Regions from separate parts of the Homo sapiens genome. Here all the other regions are linked to region 2. Evidence: fine-mapped expression QTL. A gene starts in region 2. Each other region holds a variant in brackets. All regions are shown on one strand. Distances are from middle to middle. Region 1 overlaps LPP (LIM domain containing preferred translocation partner in lipoma). Region 2 holds the start of LPP (LIM domain containing preferred translocation partner in lipoma). Region 3 has its middle 42 kb from the start of TPRG1-AS1. Region 4 overlaps LPP (LIM domain containing preferred translocation partner in lipoma). Region 5 overlaps LPP (LIM domain containing preferred translocation partner in lipoma). Region 6 overlaps LPP (LIM domain containing preferred translocation partner in lipoma).

Region 1 (4,090 bases), 200 kb after region 2:
AGGAAGCCTCAAGAACTCTAGCTGAAATTCTACAAAGTCTCTTATCACACAGCCAGGTTATCCACTTAGCAAAATCCTGGCACTAGAATAGCAGCAATGGAGCAAGGCCTGGGACCCAGGTGTCCTGCCTCTATTTTATATTCTTCTTACTGTCCACAGAGCATTATGATGAAGATAGGTGGGGTGGACATTATTATTCTAGTTTTTAATGTATGAAACATAGGATGTTAAGGGAATCTAAGACATAAAACGAATAAGAGATTTAACTATCCCAGATATTGATCACCCTTCCACCACAGAGGGCCAGCTCTTATAAAATACACCCCTTGCCATTTTGCCTGTGTGGGCCTTGCTTTCCTGCCTGAGGAACCAGCACGTACCCCTTCTCCCACGAAAGTCATCCCTGTCTGCTCTTTGGCTCTGGAATTCAGTCTTAGCAATGGACTTTGTTTTATAATTAAACTTTATTTTGTATTGCCATCTTTCCATGTTTCCACCCCCATCTCATCCCTCATACATATTTTAAAGGCTTTGAATTTAAGGATTACTTTCTGCTTCTCTGAGTTCCCTGTAGCTCCTGGCACAGGGCCCCAGACATAGTGCTCAGTAGAGAAGCAAATGACTATGTTCTGCAATAGTTTTTCTCTCTGCCTATTGCTTGTTTCTGAGATGGATATGAGACTTATAGGCTTAAAGAATTTCGGAACTGGAAAGGAAGTTAAAACCTATCTAGTCCAGCTCCCCCACCCCAGGGAAGAAATGACTTACTTAAATTTGCCTGCATAGTTAGTGGCAGTTCTGCAAATCGTGCCCACATCTCACCAAGCATTGGAGAGATGGTTGGCACTTGAGTCTCTTCTTAGGACTCTACAGGCTCTGTCTGGAGTCCTTGTTTCTATGAAGACCACTAAGAATAAAGGTAATACAGGTGCTGCTGCTGCTGTATTAAACAGATGGAAAGAAGTAGACATTCATTGTATGTCTGTTATGTGACAGGCCTTGTGACAGGTGTTTTCACATAGTTTAGCTTGGTCAGTCATCAAAAGCTAGAATTCCCATTCCTCCATGAGGGAGACAGATTGTTTCTAAATAGGACATTTAGCAGAAGCTCTTTCCTGTAAGCTCTGAAAGGCACTCGGTAGTGGATAGATGCTTCCCTCCTAGAACACGGGTGTAGGGCTCTGCAGAGTAGCATGCATGGCTCTTCTAAGGGATATGGATTGTAGAGACTGTGAAAATAAGCAGAAGTTGTGATCAAAATTGGCGTTGGGGGACTTGTGGTCACCCGAGTGTACCAGAAGACTGAGCTCTTCTACTCTCCTTTCCACACATACATCTGAGTCTTTGGAGAGCTGCAACCTGAGTGCCTCGTTCTTGAGTGTCTGTAGCATTGGCTTTTACTTGCACTTACTACATTTTACTCCTGCCTCTTCCCTAGCTAGCCTCGACCTCAACGTGTATTATTTCCTCCCCCCTTGTCATTTTTCTTCTATTACTTTTGCTTCTTCCCCTTCCTCCTTCTCCTGACTTAACCTTGGGTGGCCGCAGGTCTTAAGGCTCTGTGATGGCAGAGTCTTCTGTATTGGACTGTGAAGATTCTGGCAGGGAAGACAATACACAAATCTGTTAAATACACAATAAAAATAGCTTATGATCTATGGGACTTGGTATTAAGCAAGATGATATTAACGAGGTTTGATTGCTGTTCTGAAATGTGGCAGCTGCGCACACGTATTGGCTGCTTTTTCTCCCCACCTTTGGCAGCTTGTGAGCGGTGTTGCCATGACACTCCTTGGGCTCTGTTTAGATCAGCTATTTTCTGAAGGAGTCGCTGACCTTCCCCACAATAGAAGCTGTTGATGTGGTCACGTCAGTGCCTCTTCGGGAGCTGTGTGACTGG[C/T]GAGCCCTCAGTTGCCACTTGGAAACGGTTGGAAACTGTAGATCAGGCACAGACATTGAATGTTTAGGAGCAAGAAGGGCTTGTGAATATCCCGTACTCTCATTTGATGTGTGAGGACAGTGAGGCGCATTATGCGGAGGTGACTTGCTCAAGGCCACAGAGTGCATAGAGAGAAGGCTGGGAGAGGAGGTCAGGTCTTGTTTCCCTGCTTGTTGATGTTCCAGCTGCATGCACGGCACTGAGCCCTGCCTGAGTGCGCACTTCAGTCCTGAAAGCTGCAGAGGGATGGGCTGGTGACACTGCCGTGCCTAGGAGTGGGCAGAGAAGGTGAAGACACGGAGAGTAACTCAGTGCAGAGGCAGCGACGGGAAAGTGAAGGAGAGTAAGAAGCCCAGAGTAAATGGCCAAGGTGCCACTAACATGTCCATCCACAGAAACTTTTCTGGGGGAGAATGTTTCTTATCAGATTCCGCAGATGGGTTCCTTGAGAAGTGAGTGCTTAAAGGGGCTGGGATAGATAATCATAATGCCATGTTCTCACTGCTCTGAACCCTTTTCTGACCTCACGTAAGACCTCACCTAAAACTTCCACAAGAGCCGTTCATTGTCAGTACCATGCTTTTTTTGGAGTACTGTATAATGTCAAGTATTTTTCCAATAGTTTATATGTGAAATGTGGTCTCCGCCACAAGATTACAGGGTCCTCGGGAGCAGAAATTGTGACTTAAATGGGCCTTTCTCCCTTCCACTTTTTATTCTTGCCCTACCTTTTAATCAGGCACCTGGAAGAGATCTAAACACAGGATGAGCATCCAGTAAGTTTTTGTTGAGTTGAACTTAGTTGGATTCGGATGACCTCTAAAAAATGTTTACTAATTGCTGGTGAAAATTGGCAAATGATTATTTTGTGGAAAAATGTTCTCACCGAATTAGATTTTGTTAAGAATTCTTATGTGTGATTATTTTTCATAAACCCAATACACTGTCTATTATTATCCTTATTTTACAATGAAGAAAAAAAATTCAATTGACTGCTCAAATTTACCTCTAGGAACAGGTGATGGAGATTTGATTTGCATTTAGATCTTTTGTCTCCAAATATTGTAATGTTACTTCTGCTTTCCCCCACTACATACCGAAGAGGTCTTACTTCATTGACAGTGGTTCAGCCTTCTGCTGAGGAGTCTTCAGTCTTTTTATGTTGTAATCTGCCTCCTTATGAGTTTGGGAAAAGAATTATGGGGCCTCAGGTTTAAATGCTGTTATGCTTTGGGTAACACTTTAGCTGATTTGTTTTCAGTAAAGCCAGAAGGAAAATACTGCATTTCTGTCTTCTTTAATTTCCTTAATTTGAAATAAGCCTTGAACTAGTTTGTAAGACTCCTTTAACTTTTAACAAATTTAGGCACATATGTAATATAAAGAAAAAGGCACTCTGCCCTAAATGAATTGACTAATTAAGCTGAGAACAAAACTAGACCACTTTTTTTTTTTTGGTTTCAAAAAAAGGATGCAGGAATTTTTAAATGCTACAGCTAAAACCCAGATTTTGTCTGATATTGATGTTCTGTAGGTTTTCTCAATATTTGCCATATTCATTAGATGACATTCATTATACTTTCCTAACTTTTATAGGATTTAGATGAGGTTTGTTGATAACATTCTATATTCTTTCTGAAAAGAAAAACACACACACACAAATGTCGAGCAGTCTTCTTTTTTTAATGTATATTCTCAGGAAAAACACCATTGACTAATTTAAATTTCAGTACGGAGGCAAAGCTGATCTGTAGTGAATGTAACATCTTGTTAAATACAGGTTTCATGCTTCTTTTTTGTACCTTTCCAGGCTTTTAAGGAGGAGAATAATTTGAATAATAATGGCATAATGTCCAGAGGGAAAGTTGAATACGTAAGACAGAGATGCATGTGGGCCTATTTCTGTACTTTGTGTGCGTGTCTCTGTGTGGTGGCTTTATGGTTTTTAAAATAAAGTTTTCTGTATTTTCAATGTATATAATAACTTTGGAATCACCAAAGAAAAGTTGATATTGAGACTTGGGTTTTTAGTGGGGAGGAATGGATGTTTTTTTTCTTTTACAGTTTTAGGCAAAGTGAAACTTTAGAAAATTATATTATTTGAAGTTAGATGGAAACCAAACACTATCTTTATAGTTTCTTTCAGAAGAA
Region 2 (4,090 bases):
CTGCTAGAGGTCAGGGCCAGGTATGGAAAGATGAAGGGATTAGTCAGGAGACCTGGATGGGAGGAGGGGAAGACAGGTGCTTGGTCAGTCAGTTGTTTTGTGTTGGGCGAGTAACGTTTCTTAAGTTTTTGTCTGAGGTGTAAAGGGGGGACTACGCTCTGTCCTATCTAACTCACCTGAAGATGCAATAGCCGGGTGAGAGACTGCTTTCATTATGTGCTAACGTGAGGGATTACTTTAGATATTAATAGGAGAGAAGTGCAAGGAAAGGAAGTCTCAGGGTATGGAATGCTTTCCTGGCCATGGCTGCTGCGCGTCATAATCCCCTAACACAGTTAAGTGGTGGTTCTCATCGTCGTTCACCCTTACAGATGTCAGAGGGGAAAGAAAAATCCAACTCAAAACTTCCAATGACAGGCTTGTCTGTATTCAAACCAGTTCATCTCGTTCGCAGACTTTTTTGAAGCTATAAGCACAGAGCAAGCTTTCTGGGCGGGGCTCAGAAGTAAACGTTAAACTCCAGGGATTCATTTATTTGAGCACAGGACAGAGGAAGTTGCCCTGAAGCAACTGATTGTCATTGATATTCAGGGCTCGCTGTCAACCAGGACCTTCCAGGAACTGGCTCTGGGCCAAGAGCAGTAGAAATCACTGGGTGGTCCGCACAGCTCGCGGGCATCTAACCTGCTTCAAGGCTCAGGGCTAAAAGGGAGCCAGGGCCCTTCCTGGAGGCGGGAACCCAAGTGGGAGGCAGAGCGCCTGGGCCCGCTCCTCGATCTGCTGAGTGACGACCCTGTACAAGTCATTTCTCTTCCGAGAGCTTCAGTTTCCTCACGTGCCAAGCGGACGGGTTGGAAGTTGGTCTTTGCCAGCTCTGACACCTTGTAAGTTTTGAGTCTTGCTGGGAATCCAGGGCGGGGCTCACGAGGAAAATCTTGGAAGGGGATTTCATGGCTGGATCTCTTCCACTCAAGCTCAGTGCCCTAATTTGACGCCTTAATAGTAGACGCAGGCTTTTCCATTTTCCAGGAGCCCCCTGACGCGGCCGCTTCCTCCTACGTCTCCTTCCTCTTCCTCTAGCAGGGGCAAAGTCTCCACATCTCCCTCTTTCTCTTCCTCCTTTGCAAGCTCCCTGCATTCCCGCGTCTCCTCCTCTTCCTCCCAGGAAATGCAATGCCCTCAGTGCGCCCACCTTTTGGCAAAGCCACTGCCGGCTGCGGGTTTCCCCTCCCCCGCCAGGCGAGCTCTGCGCGGCGGCTTCGCGGGCACACGCCTTCCCATACCTTACATGGACAAATGCGTGCAGGCAAAGTCAGGAATTCAGGCCCCTGACGTCAGCCTCCAGCGCTCAGGGCACCGCACGGGAGACCAAGGGGAGGGGGTGGGGACGGTGGGGAGGAAGGAGGGGGAAAGGCACCAACCAGCAGCCGCTCCAGCCCTGCCGAAGTTTCACTTTTTGTCTGTGGGTTCGTTCCCGGGTCCCGCGCGAGCTTTCCCGGGATAAGTAGCTTTAGCGATCGGGAGACAGCCGGGCGCTGCAAGGTAAGGGCTGGCTGCACGGCCCGGGGCGCGGGGCGTGGGGCGCTGGGCGCGGGCGGCGCGCTCGAGGAGGCCAGTGTGGGGCGCGGGGCCGGGCCTGTCCGGGGCTGGGGACAATGGGAGGGGGAGTGCCCGGGCACCTCCTCCTCTGCCTCTGCCTCCGCCTCCAGCCGCCGCCGCCGCCGCCGCCGCCGCCACCACCACCGCCGCTGCCCCGGCTGCCTCCTCCCTGAGGTATTGTTGCAAATCCTTCCTTCCCCTCACCCTCCACCCGCGGGCGCCTCGGGAACCCCCAGCCCTCCCCCGGCGCGAGCGCCTCCGGGGTGGCAAGAGCGCAGGGCGCGCGCCCTGCTCTGGCCTGGCCCGCTGTGCGGAAGTGCCGGCCGCGGCCCAATCACGGGGTGCACGCCATGGGGGAGGGGGACCCAGAGTTTTTCCAAAAGCGTCGACCCCAGGCTAGGCGGGGTTGGAGCCTTGCGCGCCCCCTGCCCGGACTTTTCTGGGCGCCCAGGGGGCGGGGCCACGCCCATCCGCTTAGAGCTTTCGCGGAATCACAGTTGTCACAGCGGAAAGGGCCTAGACCCAGTCCTCCAAGTCCTCCCATTTTACAGTTGGGGCAGCTGAGGCCCAGAGAGAAGGAGGGTCGCCCGGAAGTTATTTACTAGAGGCCAGACCATAATTCAAATAGTTGGCTCCGGACTTAAGTTCCCTTTCTCTAAGCATTTCTCTAGCACCCTGTGTGTGGCAGACCCTGTGCTGGGTGTATTGGACGTTGCCCTCAAGGAACTCAGTTGAACCTGGGAGTCAAACCTGGCCTAGGGTAGAAAATGCTAAGTGCTGGAGCAAAGGCGTGGACAAAGTTAAAGGAAGTTCCAGGGAGGGGGTTTGATTTTCTGGTCCCTGGGACGGCCTTTTGGAGAGTCCTGCACTGAATGGGGTTTTTGGAGGTTGAGGAGTTTCCTGAAGCCAGCTAGCGGCTTGGAGGAAGACATCTCTTCGAGGGAACCGTGGGCCAGAGAAGACTAAGTAGTGTGGGAAATGGAGATGAAAGTATAAATATTCTTTAGTTGGAGGCAAGGGGTTGGGGATGGGGGAGGTTGTGATATGAGATGAGCTAATCAGTGGAATTGTGCCTGGGTGCTTGGACAGGGCAGAGTCTTTGGAACCTCGGAGTCGTAGGAGAACTGAAAAATCTCTCTGGCTTCCCTTCCCTTAGAAGGGATCCACTGCTTTCCCTCCCCCAACACAAAACAACTAGCGAGAACTCAGGGTCTTCTCTGGGGCTTTTGCTAGTACCAAACTCACTTAACTGTGTTTCCAGTCCCCTTTCTCTTTCCATTCCTTCCCCTTTTACTAAATCTCTTGCCTTTCCTGTAAAATTCACTCTCACTAAGGTGTTGATGACTTAATGGCTTACCTTTCCCTGCACATGTGCATTTTAAGAAAGCCTAAAGTGAAGAAGGGGAAAGTGTGGCTAGGCACCTTTACAAAGCATCTAGCTCCCTCTCCCATCCTCCCCCTTCCTCAACTCTTATAGATAGAAGAATAGGTAAAGGTCCACGAAGGTGGGTGCTAGACCTAGAGCCTATGGTCAATAATGGTGGACAGTGGGGGGTTAGGACATCCAATATGGTTTTCTCCACTTCGTCACCAGTTTTTCTGCTTGCACAGTTCCTGCCAGCACCAGGGGGCAGTTAAAGGAAAAAGTGTGTGGGCCAGGCACGGTGGCTCACGCCTGTAATCCCAGCACTTTGGGAGGCCAAGGCGGGCGGATTGCCTGAGCTCAGGAGTTAGAAACCAGCCTGGGCAACATGGCAAAACCCTGTCTCTACTAAAAATACAAAAAATTAGCTGGGTGTGGTGGCGGGGAACTGTAGTCCCAGCTACTCGGGAGGCTGAGGCAGGAGAATCGCTTGAACCCGGGAGGCAGAGGTTGCAGTGAGTTGAGATCACACCACTGCACTCTAGCCTGGGCGACAGAGGGAGACTGCCTCTCAAAAAAAACAAAAAACAACAACAACAAACAAAGGAGAGTGTGCATTTTTGCATTTAATTTCTACAATGCAGGCCCCAACCCCAACACCCAAAACTTTATAGTCTAGAATGTAGGCTCCAGAGGGGATTACCTATTCTGAATGGTAGGGGTAAAAGCCTGGGGCCTTAGGGTCTGGCAGTCCCCCCAGAGGCAGGCTCTCTGTAAGCAGCATGGGTCTAGAGTTGGTTTTGAGTGTACGCAGAGGGAGGAGAAGCTGAGCTGATGAGCTGATTGCTGTGGCTGGGACTTGAGTAGGATCTTTCTTAGAGTGACACATTCTGGTGAAGACAGTTCCAGGAAATGATGGACGGGAGAGGAAACTTGGTTATAAAGGGGCTTAAAAATGCCAGGCTAAGGAGTTTGGATATATCTTAAATTCATCATTTGAGGGTTTTGAGCAGGCTGAGACATGATTTAGAGGGGAGGTACTGGCATCGAGAAGCCCCCTGCTGCCCAATTCCAATGAGAGAGGTAATAATTTGGCCTAAGAATATTATTGGCTTGGCACGATGGCTC
Region 3 (4,090 bases), 750 kb after region 2:
AGTTTTGCTCTTATCGCCCAGGCTGGAGTGCAGTGGTGGGATCTTGTCTCATGGCAACCTGCACCTCCCGGGTTCAGGCGATTCTCCTGCCTCAGCCTCCCAAGTAGCTGGGATTACAGGCGCCCTCCACCACGCCCAGGTAATTTTTTGTATTTTTAGTAGAGACGGGGTTTCACCATGTTGGCCAGGCTGGTCTCGAACTCCTGATCTTGTAATCCTCCTGCCTCTGCCTCCCAAAGTGCTGGGATTACAGATGTGAGCCACCACACCCAGCCTACACACATATATCTTAAAATGGAGTTGTAGTATATATAGTTTTATATTTTCATTTTTCACTTAACGGTATATCCTGAAGATTTTCCCTTAACCGTATCCTGAATATGTTGATACCTGTTCTATAGCATCATCTTAGTAGCTCTGCTGTGCTCCATAGCATGGTGGTACCATGGTTTATTTAACCCTCAGTTTTTGGACATTGAGATTATTTCCAAGGGTAGTAAGGGCATTAAAAAAAACATTGTCTCAATTTTGCCTTCAAAAATAGGAGAAGGTTAGCATACTGCATATGAATAGAGAAACAAATACTTATACTGTTTCCTTTCACTTACAGAGACCATTGCGGTAACAAGAAAGAGAGAGGGGAATCTTAAATCAAGACCTCTTGACTCCTCTGTGCTGTTAATAGGTAAGGGCCTGCATAGAACCTGTTCATGAATCTCAGTTAGGCTAAGGTAGAATTGAAAAGGAGAGCCAGATGAATTTGAAAAATACAAAGTAAGACAAATAGCTTGGGGATGTGTAGCCAAAGAAGAGGCCAAGAATAAGGAATCCTGGAAAAAGAAAGACAGGAGGAGATGGAAAGAGGCTTAGACATGGGGAGAGGAGTCCCCACTAGGCAAGGTAGTTGTCTGTTGGGATGTTAACCCTTCCGTTGCACAAACCTTCAGAAAAAAGTTGATCATACTCCTTGCTGTGGCCCAGGTACTTGGAAGAGTAAAGGATATTTGGGGTGGGTTGTATTATGCAGGGTGATACATTGTAAAAAAGGGACAGCAGGGACAGGTACGAAATATGGAGTAGGGATAGAGAATTAAACAGAATTTGGAGGCAGAGGCGAGTAGGAAAACAAGAATCGCCAGAGATATTGGTATTTGGGTCAGAAGGTTTTCACTGCATAAGAAAATTGGCTGATCCAATCTTGTTTAAATATTAAAGGCCAAAATGATCTCAGTAGAATAAAGGACTTTAGAAATATCTAGTCAGCAGACGCTTAAATTATGCTTTTGGGGGGCTTTTATAAGCAAAACTACATTGAACACCATTGTAGTTGAATATGTGCACATATCCTTAACTTTTTAAAGGCTAAATAATTAGAAACGAATTGCTAGGTACAAGAAAATTCATGCTCTTAAGGCTTCGGATACATACTGTCAAAAATACTAACAGGAAAGTTTTAATAATCATTTACTGTGTTACCATATAATCAATATGGTAGGACAGTTCTTTTTTCCCCATTATTTCACCTACATTGATATATATTCTTCCTTTTTTCCAGGAGAGGTAACTGAGATGTACCATGTTCACAGAGTGGTATAAATGGAACCACAGCCCAGGGGTTCTATTTATAGAAACTTCTGACTTCAAGTCCAGAGCTCTTCTTTTTTTTTTTTTTTTTTGTGAGACAGAGTCTCACCCTGACGCCCAGGCTGGAATGCAGTGGTGCAATCTTGGCTGACTGCAACTTTTGTCTCCTGGATGCAGGCAATTCTTCTGCCTCAGCCTCCACAGTAGCTGAGAATACAGGAGTGCCACCACACCCAGCTAATTTTTGTATTTTTAGTAGAGGTAGGGTTTCATTATATTGGCCAGGCTGGTCTCAAACTTCTGACCTCGTGATCCACCTGCCTTGGCCTCCCAAAGTGCTGGGATTACAGGTGTGAGCCACCCCGCCCGGCCTTGAACTCTTATCTACCTTGCTACTTCCTTTATCAGAACTGGGATAAGAACCTTTAGAAGACTCAACCAGCACTAGTCCTGATCTTTTCACTCCTCTACTTAATCTCAATGCTGCTAGTTTACCTATTTTGCTCTCTCCTGCCTCAGGGCCTTTGCACTTGCTTTTCCCTCTCTCCCCACCCATCTTTTTTTTTTTTTTTCTTGATAGTCTTGTCTCCCAGGCTGGATTGCAATGGCGTGATCTCAGCTCACTGCAACCTCTGCCTCCTTGGTTCAAGCAATTCTCCTGCCTCAGCCTCCTGAGTAGCTGGGATTACAGGCACGCACCATCATGTCTGGCTAATTTTTTGTATTTTTAGTAGAGATGGGGTTTCACCATGTTGGCCAGGCTGGTCTCAAACTCCTGACCTCAGGTGATCCATCCTCCTC[C/T]ACCTCCCAAAGTGCTGAGATTACAGGCATGTGCCCGGCCACCCCACCCATCTTTATTTAGGCAACTTCTGCTTATCACTCAGGTTGAACTTAAACATCAATTCCTTCATGACTCCTAAATTTTGGGTTATGTGCTACTATCAAGTGCTTCTACAGCACTTTTTACTTCCCTGTTAGAGAACTTATAAACTGTGTTGAAATTCATGTCTAATGATCTGACTTCCCCATTAATTTTTAAGCTGCGTAGGACAAGACCCATGTTTATAAAACCCAAGATCAGATCTTGCTGAGCAGTGCTTGCCCCTTTAGACTAGAGAGGTTCACTCTAGGTTACTAAAATCCCAGCCACTTCTGAAGGTTTTTATAAGCAGCCCATTTCACCCATCCATGTTTCTTGCTTGGCATCTGTAGGCATTTGAGTACATGATATCTGCTGTAGACAAACATGTTTCCTGTTAATGTTAGGAAGAATCTTCCAATACTGAATTATCTGACAATGGAGAAGGCCCTCTATTTACGTTGTAACAGGATCTTCTGTATGTGCTTCTTCATAACACCCGGTCCTCCCAATGTGACTGGGAGGTGCCAGAGGGCAGGAATGAGCCATCCTCCCAACCAGGGCATCTCACACGTGCCAGGTGGTCTCTGAGTGTGTGTGGAGCCAAATTGAACTAAACGACTGTCTTGGCAACATACAACTTTCCAAGACTCAACAACTTGCTTTCAGCCCAGCCAAAGGCTTGCCGCTCTGAGGCAAATGTCACTGTGGTGGAGTTGTCTTAATGAGAAGGCATGCTTGCTTCTCTTCTGGGGGAGTTTCCTAGAGCGATGCTCTTAGAAACTCCTTGGCAGGAATCCTTAGCCAGGCTTGGCATTGACAGCGTCCTCCTGCTGGCATTAACAAGCCTCTTATTTAAATGGAAATGAGCTCTCAGTGCCAGTTTGTGAGCAAAACACATCGCTTGTGTTAAACCAGAGCTGGGAATGCTACAACACACCAAATGTCGGCTTGGTTTCCACTTCCCCACCACATCCGTAGTTCACAGTGTAGCTCTCTTTGCCTCGTCTTCTCGATCTGCAGTGTTGGGAGTCCTTAGGCAACAGGAGAATCTGTGGAGTCTGGGGGCCTATTTGTAGCTTCAATATGACCTTCAAAAAGTCACTTCAAGGTGCAAAATAATAATAATAATTAGGACATTATAAAACTATTAGCAGTATCACACCGAATCCCAGTCAACAGAGGGGCCTTCAAGCAGAGGGTCTGAACCACGTCTCGTGGCTTGCTGGCGGTGTCAGTCCAACTTTCCCCAGGAGCCTACCTGTGCTGTACATGCTCTGACCCTTGTGCACACTCTCTCTTTTCTTCTAGATCAGTTCTATTTCCACCCAAATACACATCATTTGTTGCCTAACATCTGGTCCTGCTTAGCTGGTTCTGCACTCAGTTACCGGGTCCCTATTGTTCATGTTTTATCCAATTTCTTGTTTTAGCACTTCTCTCTTTATTTCAGATCTTTACGGAATAGACTTGGTGCTCTTCTGATACCTGGATTCTAGCCACCTCTCTCTAAGATACCCTAATGGCTGGCATATTTACAGCACAGATCATGCTAGATGCTACATTGTTTCTGTTTTTACGTGTCTAACTCAGCTGAACTATGTGTGCATCTTAAGGCCCAGGCCAGGTCTTATCTTTGTTGGTAGC
Region 4 (4,090 bases), 730 kb after region 2:
GATTCCCACTTCTGGGTCAGTTCATATTCCATTCAACCTTTTCCTTTTATCCTTGTCTTCTTCAGAATAAGACATTTTTCCTCCATATTTTCATATTAAATATTAACACTTTATAGGTTCTACTTTAATATATGGACACTTTACAGGTTATACATAAATATTTGCTGGTTGATTGATTTCGAGATTCATTCATTCTGTGCTCAAATATTTGTACCTAGAGACGTTACATGTTAGAAAAAGTGAGCAGCTTCTTTCTCTAATCATTTAGGAGTCCATATTTTTCTTTTCTTTTTGTTCTCCCAACATCCTTATCTCTTACTCAGCTCTTCAATTTATAATTACCAAATAATCACTGTTAGAGAATCAGCCCCTAAGTAACTTTGATTCTGGCCAACTGTAATAAGATCCAACCACTTAAATCTGTACTTACTCAATAGGAAGGAATGTGACATCAGGAAGAGTCATTCCAGTGACATTAGTAAGACTTTATGGAGTACATAAAATTTGATAAGAAATCTTGAGCTGATTCTTTGACTTGATTTAGAAGTTGAGAAAAGAGTATTTAAGGCACAACAGGGAAACATGGGCTATACTCAGAGAAGACCCTCTGCATTGGCCAAAATATCATGGATTCTGGAAATTCCTTCTTAACAGAAAAAAAAGGCTTCCAAATAATCAGGCTGAATGGGAAGAAAAAGGCATAGAGGAAGCCTGAGGAAGTATTTACTTGCTTTTCCCATCTCTTTATAATTGGAAGAGAAGATGATCTGCCAAAATATAACCCAGCATGCACAGTATGGACAGGAAGCAGCCCTCCATGAACTTTATTATCACAGAATATGAGCATTCTTATTGATCCACAGCTACATCTTCTATTCTTGCAGCAAGGGTACATGTCCTTTGACCCTCCACAAAAGAACAAGCAGGACATCTCTATTTTCCTATTGAGTCTGAGTCCATTATTAGAAAGGACTTCCCAGCCATCTTTTCTACTTGGTATTAAAATTCCCTTACAGATTCATTGCTAAGTGCCAATTCTTTTTTTTTCTTTTGAGACGGAGTCTTGCTCTGTCGCCCAGGCTGGAGTGCAGTGGCGCAATCTCGGCTCACTGCAAGCTCCGCTTCTCGGGTTCACGCCATTCTCCTGCCTCAGCCTCCCGAGTAGCTGGGACTACAGACGCCCGCCACCGCGCCCAGCTAATTTTTTTTGTACTTTTAGTAGAGACGGGGTTTCACCGTGGTCTCGATCTCCTGACCTCGTGATCCGCCCGCCTCGGCCTCCCAAAGTGCCAATTCTGACTCTACTTAAACATCACCTGTATCAGGGAGCTCATTATTCCTTGAGGTCTTACATTTCTTTCAGCACATTTTGTTCCAAGCTACACGACTTTAAAACAGAGCCAGCCTTTGGGGCATATGTTCTCTTTGGTGCCACACAAAACCTGTAGTACATGATACAGTGTTGCTTCCCCCCTCCTTTTCCTTCCATATATATTTGTTTTGTTTTGGGCATTGCATTACTTTTTTGAATTTTTAAGAATCTCTAAAATTAGTCTGAAGGATGTTCTGAGGGCCAGACATTAGAATTTGTGAGTTTTTTTGTTGCTGGTTGTACTTTCCTATTTAGAAGACAGACCGTTCTGACAGTTGTTGTGTAGCTTCATGCCTTCCCCAGTAACTAACCCATGAACAGTACACCCCTTTTATCTGACTTGTTGATAATGACCTTAAAAATGTTAGGAAATGGGCCGGGCGCGGTGGCTCGTGCCTGTAATCCAGCACTTTGGGAGGCCGAGGCGAGCGGATCATGAGGTCAAGAGATCGAGACCATCCTGGTCAACATGGTGAAACCCCGACTCTACTAAAAAAAATACAAAAATTAGCCGGGCGTGTTGGCGGGCGCCTGTAGTCCCAACTACTTGGGAGGCTGAGGCAGGAGAATCACCTGAACCCAGGAGGCAGAGGTTGCAGTGAGCAGAGATTGCGCCACTGCACTCCAGCCTGGGCGACAGAACGAGACTCCGTCT[C/CAAAAAAA]AAAAAAAAAAAAAAAAAAAAAAGGTTGGGAAATATTGGTGTATAATCCCCATGTCTAACAAGGAAGAAGTCAAAAGCAAAAGATAGTGGTATTGCCGAAAACTCATTATTTCTAGTTAGTTCATCTGTGGAAAAGGATATCGTTCTTGAGGAGAGGGGTTCTATTATGCTATAGTTTTCTATGGAAATGTACAAATGCTTTCCTCATTGCTCTGGATGACTATTTAGTTTAAATAATATACCTTTGTCATGGGGAAGACCATGATTGTGGCTTCTTCTACCCCAACTTTGAATGAGAGAGCACTGTAAGCAGAAACTGCCATCAGTCTCCTGGGCAGGACCTGGAGGTAACTTTCTGAGCTGTAAAATAGTAATTCCTAAGAGAGCTTACAAACTGCTTCCACACAGAAAATAGCGCAGGGAGGACAGTTATTAGTACCCCTATTCTAGAAGAGAAAGCTGAGGCTCAAGCCATTAAGTGACTTGCCAAAAGCTGTGACATAGCTGGGAAGTGGCAGATTTGGGGATATAACCAGGTCTTGCAAGTCCAGTGCTGTCTCCAAGTAGCCACGCTCACAGCTGAGAACACCTTAGAGGACAATATCGACTTCTTACAGACTACCAAGCCCCCAGTCATCCAGGGAAATTCAGAGACCAATTGACTGCCAGGTGGCAAATCCACATGTGTACTGCGGTCTTTAGAGATCATTTAGAGCTTGCACACATCTGTGTCTTCTTGTGGGAAACCTCTAGGTATTCTGTCTGATCAGCACTGTGAGGAAGTTGGTGGGAAAAGGCCACTGATAAGAACAAACAATGGGCAGAAGGAAGCACATTGCAATAAATTTCCCCAGAGAGAGTTCCTTTACATTCCATTCACCAAAAACCTCTCTGGAACTGTCAGGTTCAGAATATCAACCAAGACCATATCATTTAGAATTCATTGGCATGTAGAGGTGACTCGATTCCTAAAAGAAGCCTCTCTCCCATGAACCACGATGTACGTTCCACAGAGGCAGAAACCGCCGTAGGTTAGCAATGCATTTTAGTCTTTCTCTCCATTCACATTTACTGAGAGCACACCACGTGCATGTTGCTGCAACAGGCATTTCCGATAGAGCCGATCCATGAGCTAACAATGTCTGAAAACAAATGTTATGGAACTGTTGGCATTTCTGAGATTTGGCCTTTGCCATTTGATAGACTTTGCTTCCCAGGATGCTGTCATTTTGTGATTTTTTATAATTACAAGGAATTTGGTACCATGTTGTTTTCAAAAAACCTCCTAGAAAGTCTCCATGTATGCTCTAGAAGTTGCTCTACGTAACAGTTCAGCAAGCAAGTGTTCCTTCTCTTGAGCTGCGTCCCTCAGGAAGCTGTACCTTTAGGGTGTGCTTTCCACTTTTTATTTCCTCTCATTTCACTCCTTTCATTGTTTGCTATATCCTAAAATATGTGAAGTGAGAGAAAAAATATCATTTCTTCTCATTAAATCTCCTGCATTAAATCTAAGAATCCTTTAAAATAATCACACCTGATAAGTGTTTTATGCATTTCCCTCCCTGGAGTGTTATCATCCATCAAGCCAGTATCATCATCCACCTGCTTATTCCTTGGGACTAATGAGAGCCAAGTTAAATAGCAAATGACTTCTCACCCCTTCCTAGTCCTCATGCCTGAGGAATAAGGGCGACATTAATGGGAGCGGGAGAGTGGTGGCTTTGGTTGAGATGCACGTTCACAGACTAGAAAAGTGCCTCACCTCCATGGTGTATATGTGCCACCTTTTCTTAATCCAGTCTATCATTGTTGGACATTTGGGTTGGTTCCAAGTCTTTGCTATTGTGAATAGTGCCGCAATAAACATAAGTGTGCATGTGTCTTTATAGCAGCATGATTTATAATCCTTTGGGTATATACCCAGTAATGGGATGGCTGGGTCAAATGGTATTTCTAGTTCTAGATCCCTGAGGAATCTCCACACTGACTTCCACAATGGTTGAACTAGTTCACAGTCCCACCAACAGTGTAAAAGTGTTCTTATTTCTCCACATCCTCTCCAG
Region 5 (4,090 bases), 720 kb after region 2:
TCCCTCTCTGAGCCTTCGCTCTGTTGGCTGTAAAGTAGAAATGATAAAAATACTTCCTCATAATGTTGCTGTCAGTAGAAAATTACGTCAAGTGTGTACAGCACTTAACAGGGCTTGGCACATAATAAGCACTCAATAAATGGTAGCTTTAATCATCGAAAGTTGTTTTCATCAAATTTACTTTTACGATTATTGTCCACTCAGTGAGCTAAGCCTTGAAATAGACCACCTGGGATTGTGAGCCCTCCTCGAATTGCTATCGGAGGAACACTGTGGGGACTATGAGAACCACCTCCTGCCTCTTCGCTTTGGTTTTTCTCATTATGGAAATGAGGCCAATTGGTAGGAAAGAATCATTACTCAGCAAGAATACAGTTTATGTCTTCCCAAAGAGGAAGAACCTTGAGATTGAACATAAAGCCCAACTAATATCTTTTTTTATACAGAAATATGGCAGATTCATTTCATTAGATACAGCCCAACTTTTTTTTTCTGCACCAGTCACAGTGGTTGTTCCTGGAGACTCAGAGATGGAGCAAAGTCCTATCTTGTGGAAACTTAGAGTTTAGTGCCCCATAAATATATCCAAATAATTACTACCAAAATGGATAAATTCAATGACAGAATTCTTATCTTAGAGGAGTAAATAATTCTATTTGGGGAAATTGGAGAAGGCTTATGGATACACTGAAAAGGAAAACATACTTCTGCTCCCACAGAGTTTGGGGAAAGGAAATTTTGCAGTTGATCCCAGAAGCCTACTTATTTCACCACTGATGACCCAGATTTAAAAATAATCTGGTAGTCCAAAGCAATTTTTTGCCACTGAATATAAACTTCTTGCATAAAATACCAATTATAACAACTCTGATTACTGCTGCAGTGGTACCATGATCCTTCTAACTTTTCTTTCACAGCAATCAATTGATCTGCTGCTTAATTCATATTTATTTAGATTGCAGCCATACAGATGCTTTTTGGGTGCTGCCAGGAAAATTAATTACCTACATATAGAATATAATGTATGTAGAAATGCTTTGACAACCGTAACGTGCTCTGCAAAGAGTTAGATTATTATCATTATTTCTTTTTAAGTCTCACTACAAATAGATAAATTTTTAACATCGTTTATCTTAAAACCAGTACCATGAAAAAACTGAGTCACAGTCTGTTTTTCTTTTTTTAAATCTCTTCAGTTCTTATCCAGGTCCATTTCAAATAATATGTCATTTCATACCTTCACAAATACCATCTCCAATTTCCAGAAGATACAGAGAGATACATGGCTTATATTTTCAGCCAATTAACCTGTCATAGAAAAAAAATTGTTAGGTACCATTGATCATATTGAGAAATACTAAGAAATTAATAAGTATTAAAAGTATTTACCAGCAGCCTCAAAAACATATGCATATGCATATTTATATGTATATGTATGTGTATGTGTGTTAGTATACACTCACCCTTTAACAGTGCTAAAATCCTTTAAAGAATAAAGAATTTGATAGCTCTTTAACTTTTAATTTTTAAGCAAAAGTTTAACACAATAAAAAATGTAGGAAATGCAGACTTGGCCACTTTTAAGTTTTGTGTAATGTATATTTAAACGCACTAACCTCTGCCCTTTTGAAAAGCTATGTATTTGAGTCTTCTTATGTCAGTTCCTAGAAGTCAAGGCAAATTTCCAAGAAAGAAGCTCTAAAAGGTGGGAACAAGGCAAAGATACCAACCTCAGACTATTTTTCTAGGACCTAAGGAGTGCATACAAAAGTCTAGAAACAAAAGTCAGAAACAAATAGGGGCTGGACAGGACTTTGTTCTCTCCTCCAGTTAGCCTATCCCAAGCACAGGGTTTGCATTCAGAATCTATCTAAAGATGAATTTCATACCGCGCACCATGCAGGAAAGAGATGCTAGATGCTCTTCATGCCCAAGCAATTCACACGCTCACTCTCTCACCTCGCCAAATATCACAATATTTACCACCGATTGATGGAAGAACCTCCACAGTCCCTGAGTCTAACTCCCTCACCTTACGGATGAGGAAGCAGGTATACCGACTCTCAGTTTCCACCTCTTCCTTTTACCTCTGCGTCCCACCTCAGTGTCGACGCGCAGTATCTAACCAGAACTCTCTCTTCACTTTCAGGAAATTTGCCCCGCGATGTTCTGTGTGCAAGGAGCCTATTATGCCAGCCCCGGGCCAGGAGGAGACTGTCCGTATTGTGGCTTTGGATCGAGATTTCCATGTTCACTGCTACCGATGCGAGGTCTGGTTGACAGCCCTGCCCTGCCAGTCTGTGGCAGGCGTTGAAAGGCTCGTTCGAGCTAGGTTTACATAGATGTAGCAATTACTAAATCTCAGAACGGCCTTAGTGCCTGTACTCATAGGACTTGGGTTTTAGATTTGACACTAGTATTCCGAGCACATGCTGTTGAATAAGTCACTGTACCTCTCTCAGTCTGCTTGCTCACCG[G/A]AAGAAAGGACTCAAGTCCTTAACTCCTCCAAATATGGCTGTGAGAGTGAAATACAAAATTGTATATTAAAGGACATTGTAAATTGTGAAATACTAAATTAGTGAGAAATGGTGTTATTGAACATTTAACTTTGGCTCTGAGGCTTTGGTTAGAACTTCTTGTTCAGAGTCATGGAGATTTATTTATTTGTTAGCATGCACTACTAATTGCTCAGTTTCCTGAACGCCTCTAGAGCTGCAGTATATCTGCATGTTCTTTTCAGTAAAGCCAAACTTCCCGCAGAGTATAACCATTGCTGCTATTGTGTTCTGGATACCCCGTTAACTTAAATTTCATTCTATGTCAAATGAAGACATGAACTCCATTGACCTCCTTGCCACCATGGTAGATAGCAGAGGCGAGGTTCATAGCTGTTGTGGCCTTTGAGAGTTTATACTAAAGTTAGCAAACACACACCTCTTGATGAAGTACTATGTATTTATTTTCCAAAGAAACTTCTATTTTCTCCAAAGACAAAGGCCAGCATTTAACTGTTATATAACACTTTTCAAAATGGACCCTAAGAGGAGCTGTCAGCGGTAGTATATTCCTTTACAGTTATGCAGTTCTTTGCATTTTTTTTTTTGATCCATTATCTTCTTTGATCCTCTTAACAGCTTGGTAAGGTAGAAAAGGCAGAAGTTATTTTCAGAGTGGCAGTCGGCCTGTGTGCATTGAGGCAGACTGTAGCAAAACTGTGGGTGGTGCTCAGGAGGCCTGTCCCCTGGACTAGCAATCTTTGCTCTCCACAATGCTGTCTCCTTTAGAAAGTACAGCAAACCACTACTCCCCACAAACTTTAGGATTTTATTTTCTTACTGCAGTTGAAGTAAATACACCGAACCCACTGGTGGCCCTTCTGCTTGGCAGACATCAGTCTACCTTTGCTCTAGGCCAGAAATGGCCAAAACATTCCATTCCTGTACCTGTGCATGCATTTTGAGAGATCCTTAAACTAATGGTAAAGGGTAAAAAATGCATCGGTGGTTAGGGACATTCTTATTTTCTCTTGTTGAGTGGGGGCAGCAAACTTCTACATGGGAGCCAAGATGGGTGGCCTCTTCTCTTCTTATACCTGTATTTCATATCAAGTGAGCTTAGGAGGATTATATTTATGTCCATTTATATTTATGTCCCCAATCTCTAATTCAATTACATTCAAGATATACTATGTTATATATTGGGAGAAAGGATACAGGGGATTAGCAGAATGTAAAGCAGGAAGGATAGTAAGTGGCCACATTATGGAGGCCTTGAATAGAAAGCTCAATCATGATGTTCTCCACATGTGTACTTAACGTTTTTACTTATGTCGTTTCCATCTGTCTTTACTGTTCTAGGATTGCGGTGGTCTCCTGTCTGAAGGAGATAACCAAGGCTGCTACCCCTTGGATGGGCACATCCTCTGCAAGACCTGCAACTCTGCCCGCATCAGGGTGTTGACCGCCAAGGCGAGCACTGACCTTTAGATTCAGTCACCTGTTCAGCCGGCACTGAGAAGAACGAACACAAGAAAAAGATAAGAAATACTAGAGTAAAGGCCATCAAACTACGCGATAGTCTCTGTTCTTCA
Region 6 (4,090 bases), 470 kb after region 2:
AATAGAGACAGGGTTTCACTATGTTGGCCAGGCAGGTCTCGAACTCCTAACCTCAAGTGGCCCACCCGCCTTGGCCCCCCAAAGTCCTGGGATTACAGGCATGAGCCACCGTGCCCGGCTGAAGATACTATAAACATCTTGATTTTTTACTGAGTCAGAAACTGAGAAAGGGAAAAAATTATTTGCTGAAGACTGCATGCCTCAAGTTTATACCCATTATACTACACTGCCTGCTTGCGAAAGTATGTTTTAAAAAATTGTCACTGCTGTGCAGCAACTCAAATTGTCACTGCTGTGCAGCAACTCAACTTTAAGTCTTAAACCTAGTTATCTTTTATCTTGAGCAGGACATATATGTTAAGCTGCTGAGGATGCTCCTTAACATGAGGCCATTGGGCGGGTGTGTGCCAGACAATCCTCCTAGTTGTTTCTCTAATACAGAGCTTCAGGTCGTCTCTTCCTTTTTCATCTTCTAGCCTGCCCTGGCCAAGTACCTATGAATCAACCGGCAAGGCGAGGGGTGTATTTGGTGGGCTATAGAGTGGAATTAAGCAGAATATCAAAAATTTTAGCCAATAACATTGAACCTCAAAGAGGAAAGTACTGCTGAGTTCTGATAGATGCAAGACAAGCTAAAGACCTCCTTAGCTCCATTGTTCTGCATCAGCACAATATGTCCTAGTGAGAAGGAAAGACATAGCAAAACTAAAAATGACCTGTTTTTCAAGAGCAATGTCTTTTCACCCAAACTTGTGAACTGCTTGCCAAAAGTCAGGACTAACATTGTTTTGTACATTTGCATTAAAAGAAATTATATCACCGTTGAAGAGCTGATCAGAGAAAGGGTATAGGAAAAAGGAAATGTTAAAATAAGCTGTAAAATCCAGCCCATTTATATCTGGAGTTTAGAGGCAGTCTAACAAAATGAATGTTCCATTTACTAATCACATTTGCCATTTATTCAAAACAAACACGGCTTGAGAGAGGATTAAATAAACATCCAAAAACTGTCGTTCTTGAAACCTTTGGATAGAACATTGAGTTGCATTCCTGCAGGAGAAATGCCAAGTGAGTGAGCCTAGTCCAAGTTTGTTTAGAAAGCCATATTTGGGAGAACCATGGAAGTGCGAACCTGATCATGTGAAAAGCCCAGGACTGTTCAGCCTTCTGTGGCAGTTCTGTGAGTTCTAGTACCAGACTATTAATAGGGAGTCAAGTAGAAATATCCTTCCTTCCCCTCCCTCCCTCCTTCCCTTCCCTTCCTTCCTTTTCCCTTTCCCTTTCCCTTTCCCTTTCCCTTTCCCTTCCCTTCCCTTCTCCTTCTCCTTCTCCTTCCTTCCTTTTCCTTCCTTCCTTCCTTCCTTCCTTCCTTCTCTCTCTTTCTCTCTTCTTTGGTGTGCTGAGAATAATCTGCAGACAGTGACTCTACAGATAAGATTGCAAATATTTTCCCTTCCTTCATTCCTTCCTTCTTTCCTCCCTTCCTTCCTTCTTTCCTTCTTCCTTTTTTTTCTTTTTTAACCACATGATTTCTATTTCCTTTAGCAAGATGTTATCATGTGAGGGAAGTCTTAGGTTTCTATATCCCTTTATTCTTAGTGTTAGCATTTCTTATTAAAGACAGATGTCTAGTTTTCTATTTTAAGGGTTATCTAATTTCAGTCATAAAAATGTCCTATAAATTAAGACATAACTTTGTCAATACTCTTCTAGAACATAATAGCTACCCCAAAATATTTGTTCAATGATGGGAAATTCATTGATATTTAGACCTTCAGAGATGAAATAAATATGTTGCCTTTGCTTTTCAAAGATGCCATCTTGCCCATTCATAAGAAAACTAAGACCCACAGAATGACTACCCAAGGCCTCACAGTATAATTAGGACTTTAACAAAAATCCATAAAACCTCTGGTATTGGGATATTTAAGATAATACATTGATATATACTTTATCACTGTCTTTGATAAAATAACAGTAAAACCATTTTAATGGGACACATTTTTATAACCATTGTGAATTTGGTCCTCAAAAAAGAACTCACTGAGATGATGAGATAATGCATATTCATCCTCTTTTACAGATGATGAAACATTTCGGAGAAGGCAAGTCAGTTTTCCAATTTTTCATACTATATAGATCATTGAATCTTTGTCCCTTATATACAGAATCAACAATATGAAATATGTGGAACTTGAAATCATAGTTTCCAACTTTTCTGCCTATAGAATGCCCATTTCCAGTTGCTTAACATTTAGATTGATAAACATGAAATTCATTAAACAGGAAACTGAATAAGAGACCTGGACTAATATTTAGGTATTACTTAGTATTCCATCCAAGAAGTGTCTGCAGACAGTGACTCCATAGATGATAAGGTTGCACATATTTCAGAAGCCAAATAAATGTTGTGATTAAATGATTCAAGTCTGTTAACCATTTGGTAGTTATGATGTAAATGGCTGTTAAATGGAAAGCATTTGTAAAAATGTATGTGCAAAAA[T/G]AAAGGATTTCTAACAAACCGAATGGGCCTTACCTATTTTAGTTAATACTCTCAATAATGAGCAGTGAGATTAATTTATAAGTATGTGTGTGTGTGTGTTAAGATATATTCACATTTTATGAAACCTGAAGCTTTGAAGCTTATCACTGTGGAAATAACTTCTGTATGCATAAAAGTATTATATTATTTCGGTAGGACTGCTATAACAAAATACAGTCAGGCCTTCATATTCAAGTAGGCTGCATTCAGAATTCAACCAACTGCCAATGGAAAGTGTTTGTAAAAAATAACAAGTAACAATAAAATATTAGAAAATACTACAAATTTCAAAATACAATATAACAAGTATTTACCTAGCATTTACATTGTATTGGGTATTTTAACTAATCTAGAGATGATTTAAACTATGTAAGAGGATATGTGTAGGTTACGTGTATAGCATATCATATATATAAGGGATTTGAGCATCCATAGAGTTTGGCATCTGCATGGAGTCCTAGAACTGATCCCCTGCAGATATGAAGGGACAACTGTACCACAAACTGAGTGACATAAACTACAGATTTTTTTTTCCTCACAATTCTAGAGGCTAGAAGTCTGAGATCAAGGTACTCACAAGGTTGCTTTCCTCTAAGAGCTTTCTCCTTGGATAAAAATGGCCACCTTCTCTCTGTGTCCTCACATGGTCTTTCCTCTGCTTCTCTGTGTCCTAGTCCCTCTTTTTATAAGGACAACTCCAGTCGTATTGGATTAAGGTCCACCCTAGTGCTCTCATTTTAACTTAATGGCCTCTTTAAAGGCCCTTTCTCCAAATACAGTCACAATCTGATATACTAGGGGTTAGGACTTCAACATATTAATTTGAAGGGAGACATGACTCAGCTCATAACAATTATGTAGGCAAATGAACATTTATTTTAAATGACAGAGGAAATGCAACATGTTATAAATTAATAAAAGCTATGAAATACCTCAAAAATCACATTAATAAAAGCTATGAAATACCTCAAAAATCACAAAAATCTTGAAAAATAACACTCTTATGAATTAAATTCCTGATTACTTTTTCTTACATTTTTAGCAGCATATTCATTGATTAACTAACTGTACAACCTAATTTCATAATATTTTCTGCAGAGAGAATACAAAGATAATTTCATGCTGAGAGTTTATTACTACCAGTCCTGCCTTACAACAGGTCCTTAAGGGAATGATAAGCATGAAAGACTGTTACCTACTTCTACAAGGACACCTTTAAGTACATAGCCTGCTAACACTATAAAGCAACTATACTATCAAGTCTACATAAGAACCAGGTAACAACATGATGGCAAGATCAAATGCTTATATATCAGTATTAATCTTGAATTTATGTGGGCTAAATGCCCCACTTAAAGGACACCGAGTGTCAAATTGGATGAAGGAGCAAGGCCCAACTCTATGCTGTTTTCCAGAGTCCCATCTCACATGCAGTGACACCTTTAGGCTCAGAATAAAGGGATGGAGAAAGCTCTATCAAGCAAATGGAAAACAAAATAAAGCAGAGGTTGCTATTCTATTTCAGAAAAAACAGACTGTAAACCAACA

What was found. PIP is the estimated chance that this variant, and not a neighbour inherited with it, causes the effect.
Region 1: its variant is fine-mapped to the expression of LPP in skeletal muscle (GTEx, PIP above 0.99).
Region 3: its variant is fine-mapped to the expression of LPP in whole blood (INTERVAL, PIP above 0.99).
Region 4: its variant is fine-mapped to the expression of LPP in whole blood (INTERVAL, PIP above 0.99).
Region 5: its variant is fine-mapped to the expression of LPP in whole blood (INTERVAL, PIP above 0.99).
Region 6: its variant is fine-mapped to the expression of LPP in whole blood (TOPMed, PIP above 0.99).

The regions. Positions count from the first base shown.
Region 1 is chr3:188,350,579-188,354,668 of GRCh38, forward strand. The region is part of intron 3 of LPP (LIM domain containing preferred translocation partner in lipoma); the gene reads left to right. Among named protein-coding and RNA genes, the nearest start is that of FLJ42393, 170 kb to the left of the region's middle. The variant C/T (reference allele first, on the strand shown) is at 1,901.
Region 2 is chr3:188,152,480-188,156,569 of GRCh38, forward strand. LPP (LIM domain containing preferred translocation partner in lipoma) reads left to right here and starts at 1,678. Exons shown (of 12, transcript NM_001375462.1): 1 at 1,678-1,773. LPP-AS2 (LPP antisense RNA 2) reads right to left here and starts at 1,609. Exons shown (of 1, transcript NR_036497.1): 1 at 1-1,609. RefSeq lists enhancers at 213-1,113, 2,913-3,811 and a silencer at 1,546-1,885.
Region 3 is chr3:188,903,187-188,907,276 of GRCh38, forward strand. No RefSeq gene overlaps it. Among named protein-coding and RNA genes, the nearest start is that of TPRG1-AS1, 42 kb to the right of the region's middle. The variant C/T (reference allele first, on the strand shown) is at 2,386.
Region 4 is chr3:188,881,705-188,885,794 of GRCh38, forward strand. It overlaps LPP (LIM domain containing preferred translocation partner in lipoma), which reads left to right. Exons shown (of 12, transcript NM_001375462.1): 12 at 1-4,090. Among named protein-coding and RNA genes, the nearest start is that of TPRG1-AS1, 64 kb to the right of the region's middle. RefSeq lists enhancers at 661-1,162, 1,163-1,662. The variant C/CAAAAAAA (reference allele first, on the strand shown) is at 2,028.
Region 5 is chr3:188,870,494-188,874,583 of GRCh38, forward strand. It overlaps LPP (LIM domain containing preferred translocation partner in lipoma), which reads left to right. Exons shown (of 12, transcript NM_001375462.1): 11 at 2,150-2,270; 12 at 3,858-4,090. The coding sequence ends at 3,986. Among named protein-coding and RNA genes, the nearest start is that of TPRG1-AS1, 75 kb to the right of the region's middle. The variant G/A (reference allele first, on the strand shown) is at 2,478.
Region 6 is chr3:188,623,438-188,627,527 of GRCh38, forward strand. The region is part of intron 7 of LPP (LIM domain containing preferred translocation partner in lipoma); the gene reads left to right. All of the region lies in intron 2 of LOC124906316 (a long non-coding RNA gene), which reads right to left. Among named protein-coding and RNA genes, the nearest start is that of LPP-AS1, 57 kb to the left of the region's middle. The variant T/G (reference allele first, on the strand shown) is at 2,504.